Regions from separate parts of the Homo sapiens genome. Here all the other regions are linked to region 1. Evidence: fine-mapped expression QTL. A gene starts in region 1. Each other region holds a variant in brackets. All regions are shown on one strand. Distances are from middle to middle. Region 1 holds the start of PDGFB (platelet derived growth factor subunit B). Region 2 has its middle 22 kb from the start of CBX7. Region 3 has its middle 34 kb from the start of PDGFB.

What was found. PIP is the estimated chance that this variant, and not a neighbour inherited with it, causes the effect.
Region 2: its variant is fine-mapped to the expression of PDGFB in whole blood (TOPMed, PIP 0.96).
Region 3: its variant is fine-mapped to the expression of PDGFB in whole blood (TOPMed, PIP above 0.99).

The regions. Positions count from the first base shown.
Region 1 is chr22:39,241,931-39,247,147 of GRCh38, reverse strand. PDGFB (platelet derived growth factor subunit B) reads left to right here and starts at 2,166. Exons shown (of 7, transcript NM_002608.4): 1 at 2,166-3,247. The coding sequence starts at 3,185. RefSeq lists a silencer at 4,032-4,111.
Region 2 is chr22:39,172,074-39,177,290 of GRCh38, reverse strand. No RefSeq gene overlaps it. Among named protein-coding and RNA genes, the nearest start is that of CBX7, 22 kb to the right of the region's middle. RefSeq lists enhancers at 813-1,107, 3,106-3,775, 4,788-5,217. The variant C/T (reference allele first, on the strand shown) is at 3,151.
Region 3 is chr22:39,208,717-39,213,933 of GRCh38, reverse strand. No RefSeq gene overlaps it. Among named protein-coding and RNA genes, the nearest start is that of PDGFB, 34 kb to the left of the region's middle. RefSeq lists enhancers at 1-252, 253-872, 4,055-4,555. The variant C/T (reference allele first, on the strand shown) is at 2,367.

The DNA of each region.
Region 1 (5,217 bases):
TCCCCATCTGTAAGATAGGAATAACACATCTCACAGGAGCATGGAGAGGCTACAGGTAGAGTAAGAAAAACACTAGCTACCACATAGTCAGCTCACTAATCATGGTAGTTGTTACCATTCTATTTATAGAAGACACAGAAGGTCAAGGTCAAATGACCCAGCTGTCCGGTGGAAGAGGGTTTTTATCTCTGAGTCGTTAGACTTCAAATCTAGTGTTTGGGGGTTATCTCCTCGTCCCGCTGCCCCATCTCCCTTGTCACCCTGTCTCCTAATTTATCTGTTTATACATCTGGTTGTCCTTCTCAATGGGGCTCTTCAAAGGCAGGGGCCTGCATTAGGCTGGTTCACACCTGTCTCCCCAGTGCCTGGAGCAGTGCGGGGCCACCAGTGAACTTGAAGGCTGCATGGAAGGTTCCAGGCGCTTGCTTCCTGCTAAGGTGTTTTGCTGAGCGCCTCCACATGGAGGACCTCATGGGAGCCTCCAGACCACTCCAGGAGCAGGGTAAAAATTCTCTACAACTGCACTGAGGTACAACAAACTGCACACATTTTGTTGTGATGTACGTATACACCCATAAGCCCATCACCACAATCAAAAATGACAAACATTTCCATCACCACTAAAATTTTGCCATGCCTCTCTGTTCTCTCTCACTCCTTCCCATTATAGATTTATTTTTATTTCTTTAGAGATAGGGTCTTGCTCTGTTGCCCAGGCTGGAGTGCAGTGGCACAGTCACAACTCACTGCAGCCTCAAACTCCTGGGCTCAAAACGATCCACAGTCTCCTGAGTAGCTGGGACTACAGGAGCTTGTTACCACACCCAGCTCCAGTTTATAAATTCATCTCCAGTTTATAAAGGAGGAAACCGAGGTACTGAGAGGTTAAAAAACCTTCCTGCAGACACTTGTCCAGCAAGTGGCCACTCCAGGATTTGGACCAAGGTGATGTGTCTTCAGGCTGTGTCTCTGCCACTGTGCCACGCTGCTGGGTGGTAGGCAGCAGTGGGTGGGTGCCTGCAGTGGTCTGTAAAGACCACCTGAGATGTCCTTCCTCCTCTGTTCCACCCTGTCCAGGTCCAAGAAGACAGTCTATGAAGAGAGAGCAGGTGTGACTCTCTCAGTGTGCTCCTCTGTGAGAAGCAGGCTGACATCCCAAAGGGAAGGGCGGATAACAGAGACAGTGCAAGCGGAGGAGATGAGGGTGCCTCAAAGCCGGGAGGCTGGGTGATGCAGGAGCCTGCGTGTCCCGAGGGGGGTGCTGGGCCCAGTGTGAGTACGTGTGACTGTGACTGAGACAGTGTGACTGCTGAAGGCAGGGACACAGCAGCTCCCTGACTGGGGGCAGAAGGCGTTAACTGTGTGAAGGCTGGTTGTGGGTGGGTGGGCTCTGGGCCTCGAACCCGGGGGCTGAGGGAGATAGTAAACAGCAGGGTGACTGACGGGAAGATCATGTTGGTAGCCCTGCGAAGATGCTGCAGGGCTGTGGGGGTTTGTGTGACTTTGCAGTTCAACAAATTCAAATTCAGCCAACGCTGGCAGGGCCTGTTGTGCCAGGCAACCAGCTAGGAGGAGGAGACTCGGACCCAGCTTGCAGCTGAAGGGCGCTGGCTGCCGGGTTCTGTGGGTTCACCTTGCGGTGTCTTCCCTTGCTAACACTGAGTCCTTACAATAGCCCCATCTCCAGGTTGAGGCTAGATGGAGGGGACAGAGGGAAGTGACTTGCCCAAGGTGACCCAAGCTCCCGAGTGCCAGGGCAGGATCTGAATTCAGGCTCTCAGACTGCAGAGCCTGAGTCCCTCCCTGCCATGCCTGTGCCAGGGTGGAAATGTCTGGTCCTGGAGGGGAGCGTGGACTCCTGGCCTTGGCTCTGGAGACATCCCCCTAGACCACGTGGGCTCCTAACCTGTCCATGGTCACTGTGCTGAGGGGCGGGACGGTGGGTCACCCCTAGTTCTTTTTTCCCCAGGGCCAGATTCATGGACTGAAGGGTTGCTCGGCTCTCAGAGACCCCCTAAGCGCCCCGCCCTGGCCCCAAGCCCTCCCCCAGCTCCCGCGTCCCCCCCCTCCTGGCGCTGACTCCGGGCCAGAAGAGGAAAGGCTGTCTCCACCCACCTCTCGCACTCTCCCTTCTCCTTTATAAAGGCCGGAACAGCTGAAAGGGTGGCAACTTCTCCTCCTGCAGCCGGGAGCGGCCTGCCTGCCTCCCTGCGCACCCGCAGCCTCCCCCGCTGCCTCCCTAGGGCTCCCCTCCGGCCGCCAGCGCCCATTTTTCATTCCCTAGATAGAGATACTTTGCGCGCACACACATACATACGCGCGCAAAAAGGAAAAAAAAAAAAAAAAGCCCACCCTCCAGCCTCGCTGCAAAGAGAAAACCGGAGCAGCCGCAGCTCGCAGCTCGCAGCTCGCAGCCCGCAGCCCGCAGAGGACGCCCAGAGCGGCGAGCGGGCGGGCAGACGGACCGACGGACTCGCGCCGCGTCCACCTGTCGGCCGGGCCCAGCCGAGCGCGCAGCGGGCACGCCGCGCGCGCGGAGCAGCCGTGCCCGCCGCCCGGGCCCCGCGCCAGGGCGCACACGCTCCCGCCCCCCTACCCGGCCCGGGCGGGAGTTTGCACCTCTCCCTGCCCGGGTGCTCGAGCTGCCGTTGCAAAGCCAACTTTGGAAAAAGTTTTTTGGGGGAGACTTGGGCCTTGAGGTGCCCAGCTCCGCGCTTTCCGATTTTGGGGGCCTTTCCAGAAAATGTTGCAAAAAAGCTAAGCCGGCGGGCAGAGGAAAACGCCTGTAGCCGGCGAGTGAAGACGAACCATCGACTGCCGTGTTCCTTTTCCTCTTGGAGGTTGGAGTCCCCTGGGCGCCCCCACACGGCTAGACGCCTCGGCTGGTTCGCGACGCAGCCCCCCGGCCGTGGATGCTCACTCGGGCTCGGGATCCGCCCAGGTAGCGGCCTCGGACCCAGGTCCTGCGCCCAGGTCCTCCCCTGCCCCCCAGCGACGGAGCCGGGGCCGGGGGCGGCGGCGCCCGGGGGCCATGCGGGTGAGCCGCGGCTGCAGAGGCCTGAGCGCCTGATCGCCGCGGACCCGAGCCGAGCCCACCCCCCTCCCCAGCCCCCCACCCTGGCCGCGGGGGCGGCGCGCTCGATCTACGCGTCCGGGGCCCCGCGGGGCCGGGCCCGGAGTCGGCATGAATCGCTGCTGGGCGCTCTTCCTGTCTCTCTGCTGCTACCTGCGTCTGGTCAGCGCCGAGGTGAGTTGCCACGGCGGCTGGGGCTGGTTCTTCATTCATTACCTTCGCCCCCCCCTTCTGACCGCCCCCTCCTCTCCCTGCAGTGAACTTTGGACCCTTGCAGCCCGCGAGCCTGACGCCGGGCGCTGGGTGACCTCTTCGGGCTGGGAGCGAGGTCCGGGGGTGACAGGCTCTAAGGGAAGGCAACAGCGGTGGCTTTCTTTCCAACCGGCGGGCGAATCTGGCTCCCTAAGCCGTTCCGTGTCGGGGGAGGGTGTGTGTGGCCCTGTCCCCCACCCTTTGGGAACCCGAGAACAAGCCCCTTCCCGGCCGGGGGAGAGGGGGTGGGGTGGTGCCCAGGGTGCAGAAGGCAGCGCGTCCTCCCGAGCCCACTTCGGCGCCAGCCTCGGCTTAGGCTCTGTCCTGCCATCGGCTTGCCCAGGAGGTGCAAGCTTGCGCACCGGTGCCATCCACGCCGACCTTTGACGGGGCTCGGGTCCCACCCTGGCTCCCGGTCGGGGTCCGGGTGGACGCCCTCCGGCACGCGCAGGGCATGCCCGGCCCCAGAGCACGGTCTGGAAGCAGCTTGTGTCTCGGGCGCGGGGTTTGGGGTGGGAGTAACAGGGAGAGAGAGAGAGAGAGAGAGAAAGAGAGAGAGAGAGAGAGAGACGGAGAGAGAGACGGAGAGAGAGAGGGAGAGAAAGATAGAGACGCAGGTAGGTTTCGGGCACTCGGGTAGGGGGAGGACTAGGGGCTCTGAAGGAATCCAGCCCCCGGGGCGCTGTGTGCCTGAGGCCTTGCCGTACCTGTGCCCGCGCCCTGCAGGAGGAAGCACCTCTCTCCCCCGCATGCAGGGTGCGGAGCGCGCCGCCTGCAAAAGCCTAGCTGCACGGGAGATGGGGTATAAAAACATCTGAGGGAGCGCTGGGGTCGGAGCCGTCCCCACCCCTCCCAGCCTCACGTAGCCGTGAGTTGGCAAGTCTACCCGGAATCCAGGTGGGAAAGGGGGCGGGGCAGGACGACGCGCGCGGTGGAGGGGAGGAGAGGGCAGCCGGGAGCGCGGCGTGACTGGGTACCGTCCCACCTCCGCCCGGCTGCGGCCGGGAGTCCGCACCTCGCCCGCACCTCGCCGGCTCCCGGGGAGGGTCGGCCCCTGCGGCCTCCAGCCAGGCGCAGGAAGGAGGCAGCGGCGGCGAAGGGGTTAAGGCGGAGGGCTCGGAGGCCGCGGCCCGGCCTTGGGCTGCCGCCAGCGCAGGTTGTTTTGACCACGGAGGAGCCGTCGCCGTCTCCTTTTGTTCTCGGGGCTCCTCGAGGGCCGCAGGCCGCCCGCCCGGGGGCCCCGCCCTTCCGCGGCCGCCCCCCGCGGCCCGCACCCGGGAGGGAGGACGCGGGGCTCGGCCGGGCCGCCTTCAGGCCCCTCCCGACGCCCCCTCTCCGCCTCTCCCGCAGCCCCCCGGGCCGCGGCCAGCTGTTGGGGAGGGGGTGGCCGGCCGGCCCCAGCTGCCGCCTCGCCTCGCCGTGGGACCTGGGGGCTGGGCCCGGTGCCAGGGCGTCCTGGGAACGGCGGCGCCCCGTGGCTGCTCTCCGCAGCCCACCCCGCCCGGGCCCCCGACTCGCTCACTCACCCCACGCATGCACACTCCTGGCCGGAGGCGATGCTGCGCTCCGGCGGGCGGGCGCGCAGAGCGACGGGCACGCACTACCGCGGCCAGGTCGCGCGCCCGCCTCTGCCACGCCCGTGCACACGCGGGACACACGCGCGCGCACCGCACACAAACGCACGCACGGCCCCTGCACGCGCGGCCTGAGCACACGTGCGCGCACACCCACGCACGTACACAGGCACGCACGGGCCCCCGTGCACCCAGCGCCTGGTGCTCGCCCCCGCGCAACAGGTGGGCCCTCCGTGGGCCCTGGCACCTCACCACCTCTGTAGCGGCCCCATTTCCTTCCTGGCGTCCTGTGAGGGAGGGAGAACCTCCCATCAGCAC
Region 2 (5,217 bases), 70 kb after region 1:
CCTCCAGGCTCCCCAAGGGCAGAGGGCAGCATGGGGAGCGGGCTTGGTCTCCTGCAGAGTGGAGGTCTCTGAAGCCTCCAGCTCCCAGCTTCTCCCCAGACTGCTCTGGGCCTGAAACTAGGGGGCGTTTGCAGAAAAACATGGAAAAGAATTACCCTAGTTTCTGGTGGTTTTGCAGAACAGCAAGTCCCCGGATTCCCGGGTCAGCTTGACCGAGCTAGCTGTGGGATCTTGGACAAGGACCCCTTTCCTCCTAGGACCCCAAAGGCACTCCCAGGGTGAGGGCTCCAGAGCCTGACCGCCCCCAGGCCCTCCCCTCTGAATGTTCGAATCCTGCATACCATGGCTGCGTGGCGGTGGGAACCACTATATCCCACCAGGCCCGGCCCAGTGCGGAGAAGGGATGGGCTCCTGCCCTTAGCCAGAGGCACAGGCTCTGCAGAGAGGCAGTGATGATGCCATAGAGCGTGACAAGGGCAGCAATGCTGGGGTTGCCCAAGGAAGGGATCAAAGTCTCCCATCTTGCAGACAGAGATACTGAGTCCCAGAGAGGGGAAGTGGCTGTCTGGGCACTGGAGACTAGAACCCAGGAGTCTTCTACCTCTCCCCTCTTCCGGCTCTGACCCCGAGAGCTTCCCTGGGGAACGGTAGGTGGGCTAGGGAGCCCCATAAGGTAGAACTGAAAGCAGAAACTCCTCCCCTGTTAACTGACTCCTCCCAGAGCCCCCGAATCTCTGCTTCCAGGGTTGGGGTTCATTTGCTTCTGCGATAGTCTGGGATGGGTGGGACTGGCACAAGATGGGTCCTCTATCACCCCAAGTCCAAGGGGCGCCCCAAGCGGGGTGCTGCTGTGCCGTGTCGGGCCAGCATGGCAGTAGGCCAGGGCCCCCGGCAGCGCCGAGGCAGCTGGACAGGGCGGCCGCCAAGAATGCCAGGAATGCGGAGCCGCCGTGTCCTTCCCGCTCCTCTTCCTCCCCCCCGCCAGCCCAGAACAGGATATTCCCTGTCCAGGGAAACCCAAGTCCGGTCCCTTTATGGGAAAACCATGGGGCATCTGGTGGGCACTGTTCCTGCACTGGGACGGGTGTTCAGCATAGGGGAGCCCTCAGAGACGGGGGCATTGGGTGCTGCTGCGGAGGATGCAGGGGTCTGTGGGGGCTGGCTCTGTGTGGGTTCAGCACATATGAGGGCCTACTATGCGCTAAGGGCTTCATGTGAATTAACTCACTCAGTCTCACATCAACCCTGGGAGCTTCTGCTTTGCAGATCAGGAAACTGAGGCTCACAGAGGCTAAGGAGCTTGACCGAAGGCCCTAGCTAGCAAGCCGCAAAGCCAGTCAGACTCTGATACCCAGACTCTCAGCCATAGGCCAGGTGGCCCCAACTCAACTGTGGCCATGGGGGCATGGCCTGTGCCCTCACATGGCACCTGTGGGGGAAGGGCACGTTGTTCCCAGCTGGTCAGTTTCAAAGGTGGCAAAGGTTTGTCTTAGAGATGCAGAGTCCGGCCCTGCCCCCGGGGCTGTTCTTGCAGATCTCAGCACCATGGAATCCCAGAGTTTGATCAGGATACAGACCATTGGCACCAGGAGGGGCTCCTCTGGACCCTCCCTAATGAGCAGGGGAGGCCGTCACTCTGGAGGTTCAGGGATAAGAGGTGGGGCTCTGAGAAAGCTGAAGGGGGGACACAGGGTAGGGGAGAGAGCGGGGCTAGCTGCACCAACTCCAGCCCTGGGATCCTAGAGGTGCCGCGCCCCGCCCTGGGCTGCACGCCCATCACCTCCCTTCGAGGCCAGCCCACCTCGGCCCTTTGGTTTGGCTACAGGTCTGGGGCATTACCCTAGCAGGGTCAGGTGCAGGCAGAGACGTGGAGACCCTAGCCTTGGATCAGGCCTTGGGCGGGTGGAGAACGGAGAAAATGCAGAGGCACGGGCTGTGCTGCCACCCTCGCAACCCCCGAAACCAGCCCAAAGTGATTGGAGACCAAGGGACCATCTGCACGAGAAATTCTCCCCATTTAGAAATAGGGGAAACTGAGGCACAGGGAGGCCATGTGGCTTGCTCAGAGTCATAGAGCTGTCACGCTGTCACCTAGTGGAGATGTGATTGGAATCCTGGGCTTTCTGTCTCTGGCCCCCACCTGGGGGCCCCTCACGGTTCCTCTCTTCTCCCCTGCTTCCCTAGCCCCCCAAGTCTGGCTGGTTCTATTCCAGTGTGTTGTCCTGTAAGGGCTTCGGGTCCCCCGGGGGGCCAGGGTCAGGTAAACAGGATCCCAGCCGCATTCCCTGACCTTGTTTACCTCCCAAAAGAATGTGAGGGCATTCTTCCCCTTCCCGGGCTGTGAGTCAGCTCCCAGCAATGCGCCGGCTGGCTGCTGGCTGCCCTTCCCCCATGCAACCCCCTCCAGACCCCTGCCCCTTGCCTTCTCACCCGGTGACGTCACTGATGTCACCCCTCCCCATACCCCCATGGAGCCCACCAGGCCTCCAGTTGCCATGGCGACGGCTCACAACAGGAAGCACAGCCCCATCGAGGCCTGCGCTGGGGCAGAAACACAGGAAGCCGCGCTAAGCACTGAGCAGCATTGTCAGCCCCGTAAAAAACAAAACAGGACAAAAAGATTTAATGAGAACAATCAGCCCAAAGAAAAAGGAAAAAAAAAAAAGACCAAAAAAACAAACAAAGCCAAACAGCCTGAAGGCAGGGGGCTGGCAGGGCTCCAAGGACCCCACGTTTTCCCTCCCAACACAATGTAGGCTCAATAATACTTCCTTCTCAGAAGGAGGCTCCCGGGGGTGAGCAGCGGCTGCAGCAGCTCCAAAACTACCCTTGGCTACCCTTGGTAACCCCAACGCAGGTCCAGCTCTATGCCCTCTACTGAAGGCTTTGGGGGACTGGATAGGCTAGTCCTGCCCCCACCTCCCCAAGTATTACCCCTCCTAAGTCCTGCTAGGGGACGTATTCAGTTCAGTGGAAGAAAGAGCACAGGCTCCTGGGTCACCCAGATGGAAAATCTACTCCTGGCCCAGCCGCTGCCTGATGATTGTGAGATTCTGTGTGGGTGGCGATCTCTCTTGCACCTCACTTTCCTCATTGGTTTTGCACCTCACTTTCCTCATTGGTTTTGTAACCATCACTGTCATCAGCATC[C/T]GCCTTCACACCTCACAGAGGTGTTGCAAAGCTCAGGCGAGCTGGCACATCAACTAGCACCCAGTAGGTGCTCAATGCGTGCAGAAGGAACTCACAGAGGATGAATGAATGGGGCAGAAATTCCGTGGAGGCAGCTAGCTCAGCTCTGAACTAACTATCAGAGATGGACAAGATGCCCCAGGGGGTATGGGGCTCCCCATCGCTAGACGGGGCAGGCTTGTGAAGGCTTGGTGGGACCTTGTGGAAGGGACTGAGCCCTGGAACAGGGAGGGTGTAGGGGAGGAGCAAAGCTCCCTCCCTCCAGCAGAAGGCTCTGGCCCAGTGGTCCTGTCTGGATAATCCCATTTAGTCTGGTATCTGGTTGATGCCTGCACCGTGACTATGGGAAGAGACCCCACAGTGTCAGTGGGGCAGTTAGTGGTGGGGGGACCCCTGGCTCTTTCTCCATTGCCTGGAGAGAGTAGGGTCCCAGGGCAGAGGAGGCCACCATTCTAGTCCATTTAGGAATGTGACGGATAAGAATGATCCCCGTGGGACAGTGGCAGAGCTGGACTCTGATCACACGGGCAGGTCAGGCCATCCCCTGTCATGTGGATCGGTCCAGCACCTGCTGTTAGCCCAGTGGTTCCTGCCAATGATTGGTGATAGAGCTGGCCTTGCAGGGCCCGGTTGGGGAGTGGGGAACGGGATGCTTAGGCGAGGAGGCTGACTGAGGTTCAGAGCCTGGCTCCAGGTGGTCAGAGAGGCCACCTGGGGGAAATGGGCCAGAAAATGCGGACGGGACTTTGTTGGGTAAGGACAAAAATGGTAGCTGTTCCACTCAAGGGCATAGCAGGAGCACAGGCGTGGCAGTGAGAAAGCCCAGGGTGTTCTGGCCACGGGACCCAGATCTGCACACCTGTAGTCAAAGTTGGTGTCACAAGATAGAGAGATCCCATGGAAAAGAGGCTGGAACCAGATCACAGAGGGTCTTCAGTGTCACTGCCAGGAGTCGGGAGCTGACACCCTAGGCACCGGGGAACTGCTGGGGGCTTTTGACCAGGGTAGTGATATGTGCAGCCGGGTAATTTAGGGTGACGCCTCCGTGTGGATTAGGAGTGGAGGATGCACCAGGAAACAGCATAGGATGGGAGGTCAGAATCTGGGGTCTGCTGAATTGGCTTCTTTTCTTTTGAACTTAATAATAATGAGACATAATAGGTGTTCAATCAGGCCGGGCACAGTGGCTCACGCTTGTAATCGCAGCACTTTGGGAGGCCGAAGCAGGCAGATCACCTGAGGTCAGGAGTTTGAGACCAGCCTGACCAAGGTGGTGAAACCCCATCTCTAGTTAAAAAAAAAAAAAAAAAAGTACAAAATTAGCCAGGCGTGGTAGCACACGCCTGTAATCCCAGCTACTTGGGAGGCTGAGGCAAGAGAATTGCTTGGACTCAGGAGGCGGAGTTTGCAGTGAGCTGAGGTCACACCGCTGCACTCCAGCCTGGGCAACAAGAGTGAAACTCCATCTGAAAAAAAAAAAAAAAAAGGTGTTCAATCAATATTTATAGAATGAATGAATGGCAACCACCTTATACTGTGATATTTATTTTGCATACGTTGTCTTGTCAATTCTCACTACAAGCCTAAAAAATAGGCCTCATTCTTCCTGGTTTTACAAATGAGAAAATGGAGGTTCAGAGAGGTTGAGGGACCTGCTCCAGGCTGCACAGCATGCTGTGGTGGAGCAAGATTCCAGCACAGCTGAACCCACCCACCATCTCCCACTGCAGAGTCCACCCCAGCGCTGGGCTCTGTGCTGAACCCACCCACCATCTCCCACTGCAGAGTCCACCCCAGCGCTGGGCTCTGTGCTGAACCCATCCACCATCTCCCACTGCAGAGTCCACCCCAGTGCGGGGCTCTGTGCCAGGCCTGGGGGACACACAGATAACTGAACTCCAACCATGTGCCTGAGTAGCCCCCAGATTAGAGGCCTCAGTTTTCCCAGCTGTGGACTGAGGGCTGGTGGAGGAGTGCTCAGGGAGGGGGCTGCCCAGGGCCCAGCTGGGGGAAGACAACACTGAGACA
Region 3 (5,217 bases), 33 kb after region 1:
CAGAGTCGTGCTCTGTCACCCAAGCTGGAGTGCAGTAGCGTGATCTCAGCTCACTGCAACCTTCGCCTCCTGGGTTCAAGTGATTCTTGTGCTTCAGCTGCCTGCGTAGCTGGGACCACAGGCACATGCCACCACACCTGGCTAATTTTTGTATTTTTAGGACAGACAGGGTTTTGCCATGTTGGCCAGGCTGGTCTCAAACTCCTGACCTCAATGATCTGCCTGCTTCAGCCCCCTGAAGTGCTGGAATTACAGGCGTGAGCCACCACGCTCAGCCTCATGCAGTATTTTAAGAAATCAAAATTAATGCAAACAAGTTCACCACGAGCCAGTCCGGGAGTGGTGGCTCATGCCTGTAATCCCAGCACTTTGGGAGGCCGAGGTGGGCAGATACTTGAGGTCAGGAATTTGAGACCAGTCTGGCCAACATGGTGAAACCCCGTCTCTACTAAAAACACAAAAATTAGCCAGACATGGTGGCGGGCGCTTGTAATCCCAGCTACTTGAGAGGCTGAGGCAGGAGAATCGCTTGAACCTGGGAGGCGGAGGTTGTAGTGAGCTAAGATTGCACCACTGCACTCAAGCCTGGGTGAGCGAGACTCCAACTCAAAAAAAAAAAAAAAAAAAAAAAAAAGAAAGAAAGAAAAAAAATTTACCATGAGCCAAAATTTCAAAATTTCACTTCAAGACAGGAGTTGAAACGAGCACTTACACAATGCCTCGCTCGCCTCACTCTAATCTTGGCTTTGTCAGATCCTGTCTTGTTTTAAAATGTTGTGCTCCGGGTGTGTGCCTGGCTTGCCTCACCGCAGCCCGGGCCCTGCTGACCCAGCTCCATGTTCACTGTCCTTTCTTCTTCCTTCTGTGGCCTTGGTTTTGGGTCCTCACTCTCTTTTGACCCAACCATTGAGAAACTCCTCTGGGGTTCCTTCTCCTCACCCCGGACTATCCCACCATGAGCCACGTCACTCTCTGCTGCCCCCTTAGGCTTCTTGACACAGAGTAGTCAAGCCACTCCCTTGCTCATAACCTTCTATGACTTCTGACCCCAGGCGAGGCTCACACTCACCAACAAGGCATGCAGAACCCTCTGTGGTCAGCCCAGGGAGGCTTCTTCCTCCCAAGCCTCCCCGCCTGTCACCTGCCCTCCTCCTCCATATCCAGGCCGTGCCTTTCTCCACATCTGTACTTCACTGACTATCTTCAAAGTCAACCTCAAATTCACTAGAAAACCGCCCCTGGAGGAATGTAAAATGGTATAGCCACTGTGGAAAACAGCAGGGTGGTTCCCCAGAAACATTCACACAGAATTACGATATGACCCAGCAATCCCACTTCTGGGTAGATACCCCAAAGAACTTAAAACAGGGTCTCGAAGAAATATTTGCACACCCAGGTTCACAGTGGAATGATTCACAATAGCCAAAAGGTGGAAGCATGGCCGGGCACGGTGGTTCACGCCTGTGCTCCCAGCACTTTGGGAGGTTGAGGCAGGCGGATCACCTGAGGTCAGGAGTTCGAGAGTTGGCCAGCCAACTCTCTGTTGTTCAGCCTGGCCAACAGAGTGAAACCCTGTCTCCACTAAAAATACAAAAATTAGCCGGGCGTGGTGGCGGCCACCTGTAATTCCAGCTACTCGACAGGCTGAGGCAGGAGAACCACTTGAACTTGGGAGGTGGAGGTTGCAGCGAGCCAAGATCGCGCCACTGCACTCCAGCCTGGGTGACAGAGCGATATTCCATTTTGGTATTGCTAGAAAGAAATACCAGAGGCTGGGCAATTTATAAAGATGAGGTTTCATTGGCTCACAGTTCTGCAGGCTGTACCAGCATGGCGCCAGTGTCTGCTCCTGGTGAGGCCTTACGGACGTTACAATAACGGCGGAAGGCAAAGGCGGAGCAGGCATGTCGCATGGTGAGAGCAGAAGCACGAGAGAGTGGGGGGCAGGGGTGCCACAGACTTTTTTTTTTTTTTTTTTTTTTTTGAGACGGAGTCTCGCTCTGTCGCCCAGGCCGGACTGCGGACTGCAGTGGCGCAATCTTGGCTCACTGCAAGCTCCGCTTCCCGGGTTCACGCCATTCTCCTGCCTCAGCCTCCCGAGTAGCTGGGACTACAGGCGCCCGCCACCGCGCCCGGCTAATTTTTTGTATTTTTAGTAGAGACGGGTTTCACCTTGTTAGCCAGGATGGTCTCGATCTCCTGACCTCGTGATCCACCCGCCTCGGCCTCCCAAAGTGCTGGGATTACAGGCGTGAGCCACCGCGCCCGGCCGCCACAGACTTTTTTAAAATTTTTTTTTCTTTTGAGAAGGAGGCTTGCTCTGTTGCCCAGTCTTGCTGTGTCGCCCAGGCTGGAGTGCAGTGGCG[C/T]GATCTCGGCTCACTGTAATCTCCACCTCCTGGGTTCACACCATTCTCCTGCCTCAGCCTCCCTAGTAGCTGGGACTACAGGCGCCTGCCACTGTGTCCGGCTACTTTCTTGTGTATTTTTAGTAGAGACAGGGTTTCACCATGTTGGCCAGGCAGGTCTCGAACTCCTGACCTCAAGTGATCCGCCTGCCTCGGCCTCCCAAAGTGCTGGGATTAAAGGCATGAGCCACCACACCCAGCCTACATTTCCACATGATTTTAGAGGGAACAAACATCCAAACTATATCAACGTACAATGGAATATTATTTAACCTTCAAAAGGAAGGAAATCCTGGGATATGCTGCAACATGGAAGAACCTTAAGGACATTCTGCTAAGTGAAAGAAGCCATTCACAAAAGTGCCAGTGCTGTATGATTCCATCATATGATATAATTAGATTAGTCAAAATTATAGAGACAAAAAGTAGAATGGTGGTTGCCAGAGGCTGGGAGGGGGGATTGCGGAGTTAGCGTTTAATGGATACAGAGTTTCAGTTTTACAAAATGAAAATAGTTCTGGAGACAATGGGGGCGATGGTCACGCAACATTATGAATGTACTTAATACTACGAACTGTACACTTAAAACAGTTACAATGGCACATTTTTTTTTTTTTTTAGACAGAGTCTCCCTCTGTCGCCCAGGCTGGAGTGCAGTGGCCCAATCTCGACTCACTGTAACCTCCATCTCCCGGGTTCAAGCAATATTTCTGCCTCAGCCTCCCGAGTAGCTGGGACTACAGGCACACGCCACCACCCGTCTAATTTTTGTATTTTTCATAGAGACAAGGTTTCACCATATTGGCTAGGCTGGTCTCGAACTCCTGACCTTGTGATCTGCCTGCCTCAGCCTCCCAAAGTGCTGGGATTACAGGCATGAGTCACTGCACCTGGCTTACAATGGTAAATTTTTTGTTATGTGTATTTTAACACAGTAAGTGCAGGCGCAGTGGCTCACGTCTGTAATCCCTGCATTTTGGGAGGCCGAGGCAGGCAGATCACTTGAGTTCAGGAGTTCAAGACCAGCCAGGGAAACGTGGCGAAACCCTGTCTCTACTAAAAATACAAAAATGAGCCGGGCATGGTGGTGGGCACCTGTAGTCCCAGCTACTCGGGAGGCTGAGGCAGGAGAACTGCTTGAACCTGGAAGGTGGAGGTTGCAGTGAGCCGAGATCATGTCACTGCACTCCAGCCTGGGCAATAGAGTGAGACGCTATCTCAAACAAACAAACAAACAAAAATACAATAAAAAGTTGGGGAAAGAAATAAGAAAAAAAAAAACCTGCTCCTGCAGCTCTCTGGCCAGAAGTGAGGTTTTTCTTCTCTGAATGCATTCAAACATTCTACCCAAGATCTCCTTGAATTAGGAAGGCACTGGGTGCCAAAGTCTGTCTTTGAGGTCAGGATCTGCGCCTGTGCCTCCTAAGGCCTGCCTTGGTGCCTGGGGCCTGCAGACGCTGGACGGATGAAGGAACCAATGGCAGGGGCTCAGCCCATAGCTCTGGGCAAAGCTCTCCAGTGCACAGCGGCCACATGGAGCTCTGCATGGTGCAGTCACCTGTCAGTACCTGGGCACTCAAGTACCCTGACCTGCACACTCAGAGCCAAGAGACGGCAGGTGCAGGTGAGGCGGATGTAACTGACACCCGGCAGCAGCCCCGTGCATTTGAGGCCTCTGGTGACCTGCAGGCGGCAGAGTGGTGAGGAACCCAGGTTTGGGTCTAGGTGCCAGCTCTGCTGTTTGCTAGCTTTGTCTCCTTGTCTGCTAAATTGGCAGAGAATCGTCTCAGCTTTATGAGATTGTGTGAGGATCAAATGGGACTATGCCTGGGAACTGCTTCCTGTGGCAATTTTTGGGAGGGCAGACCCTGCCCAGCAGCCATCCCTCCTTATTTCTCTTGCTAAACAGAGCCCTGGTCTGCTTATGGAACCAGCTGAAATGCTGCGATCTCAGTGCCAGAGGCTGGTCTCATCAGTCCTGGGCATCTGATTCTCCTGGACCGATGGTGGGTCTGAGTGTGGCCATATAACGGCACTCTGGCTAATGAGACATGAGAGGAAGTCTGTGGGGTGTGCAGGGAGGGTGACAGTGGGGACTCATCCTCATCAGAAGACAGAGACTTCCAGGGAGACTGCCCTTTCCTTGTTTCCCTTCTTCCTGCCTTGAATGCAGATGTGACAGTTGGCGGGTCAGCAGCCATTCTGTAGTAATGAGATGATAAGGATGACAAAGAGATTGCAGGAAATCCAGCCCTGCCATCATCAAGGCAAGCGTTACTGCCTCCTGATTTCTTGTTATGGAAGAAAGATTAACGCCTATTTTTCTTCCCTAAACCACTATAAATTGGATTTTTCTTTGACCTGACACCAAACACATTCCTATAGAATTCACTGCCACACAGCCGAGTAAATGTTTGCTTTTACCTGGCTTTTACAACTCTCTGAGCTTCCCACCATCTAGAAGATGAAAGTAGGGTGGGTGAGGTGGCTCACGCCTGTAATCCCAGCACTTTGGGAGGCTGAGGCAGGTGGATCATTTGAGACCAGGAGTTCGAGACCAGCCTGGCCAACATGGTGAAACCCCGTCTCTACTAAAAATACAAAAATTAGCCAGGCATGGTGGCACACGCTTGTAATCCCAGCTACTCAGGAGGCTGAAGCAGGAGAATCACTTGAACCCGGGAGGTGGAGGTTGCAGTGAGCCAAGATTGCACCACTGCACTCCAGCCTGGGCCAGAGAGTGAGACTCTTGTCTCAAAAAAAAAAAAAAAAGAAAGAAAGAAAGAAAGAAAATGAAGGCAGAGACATCTGT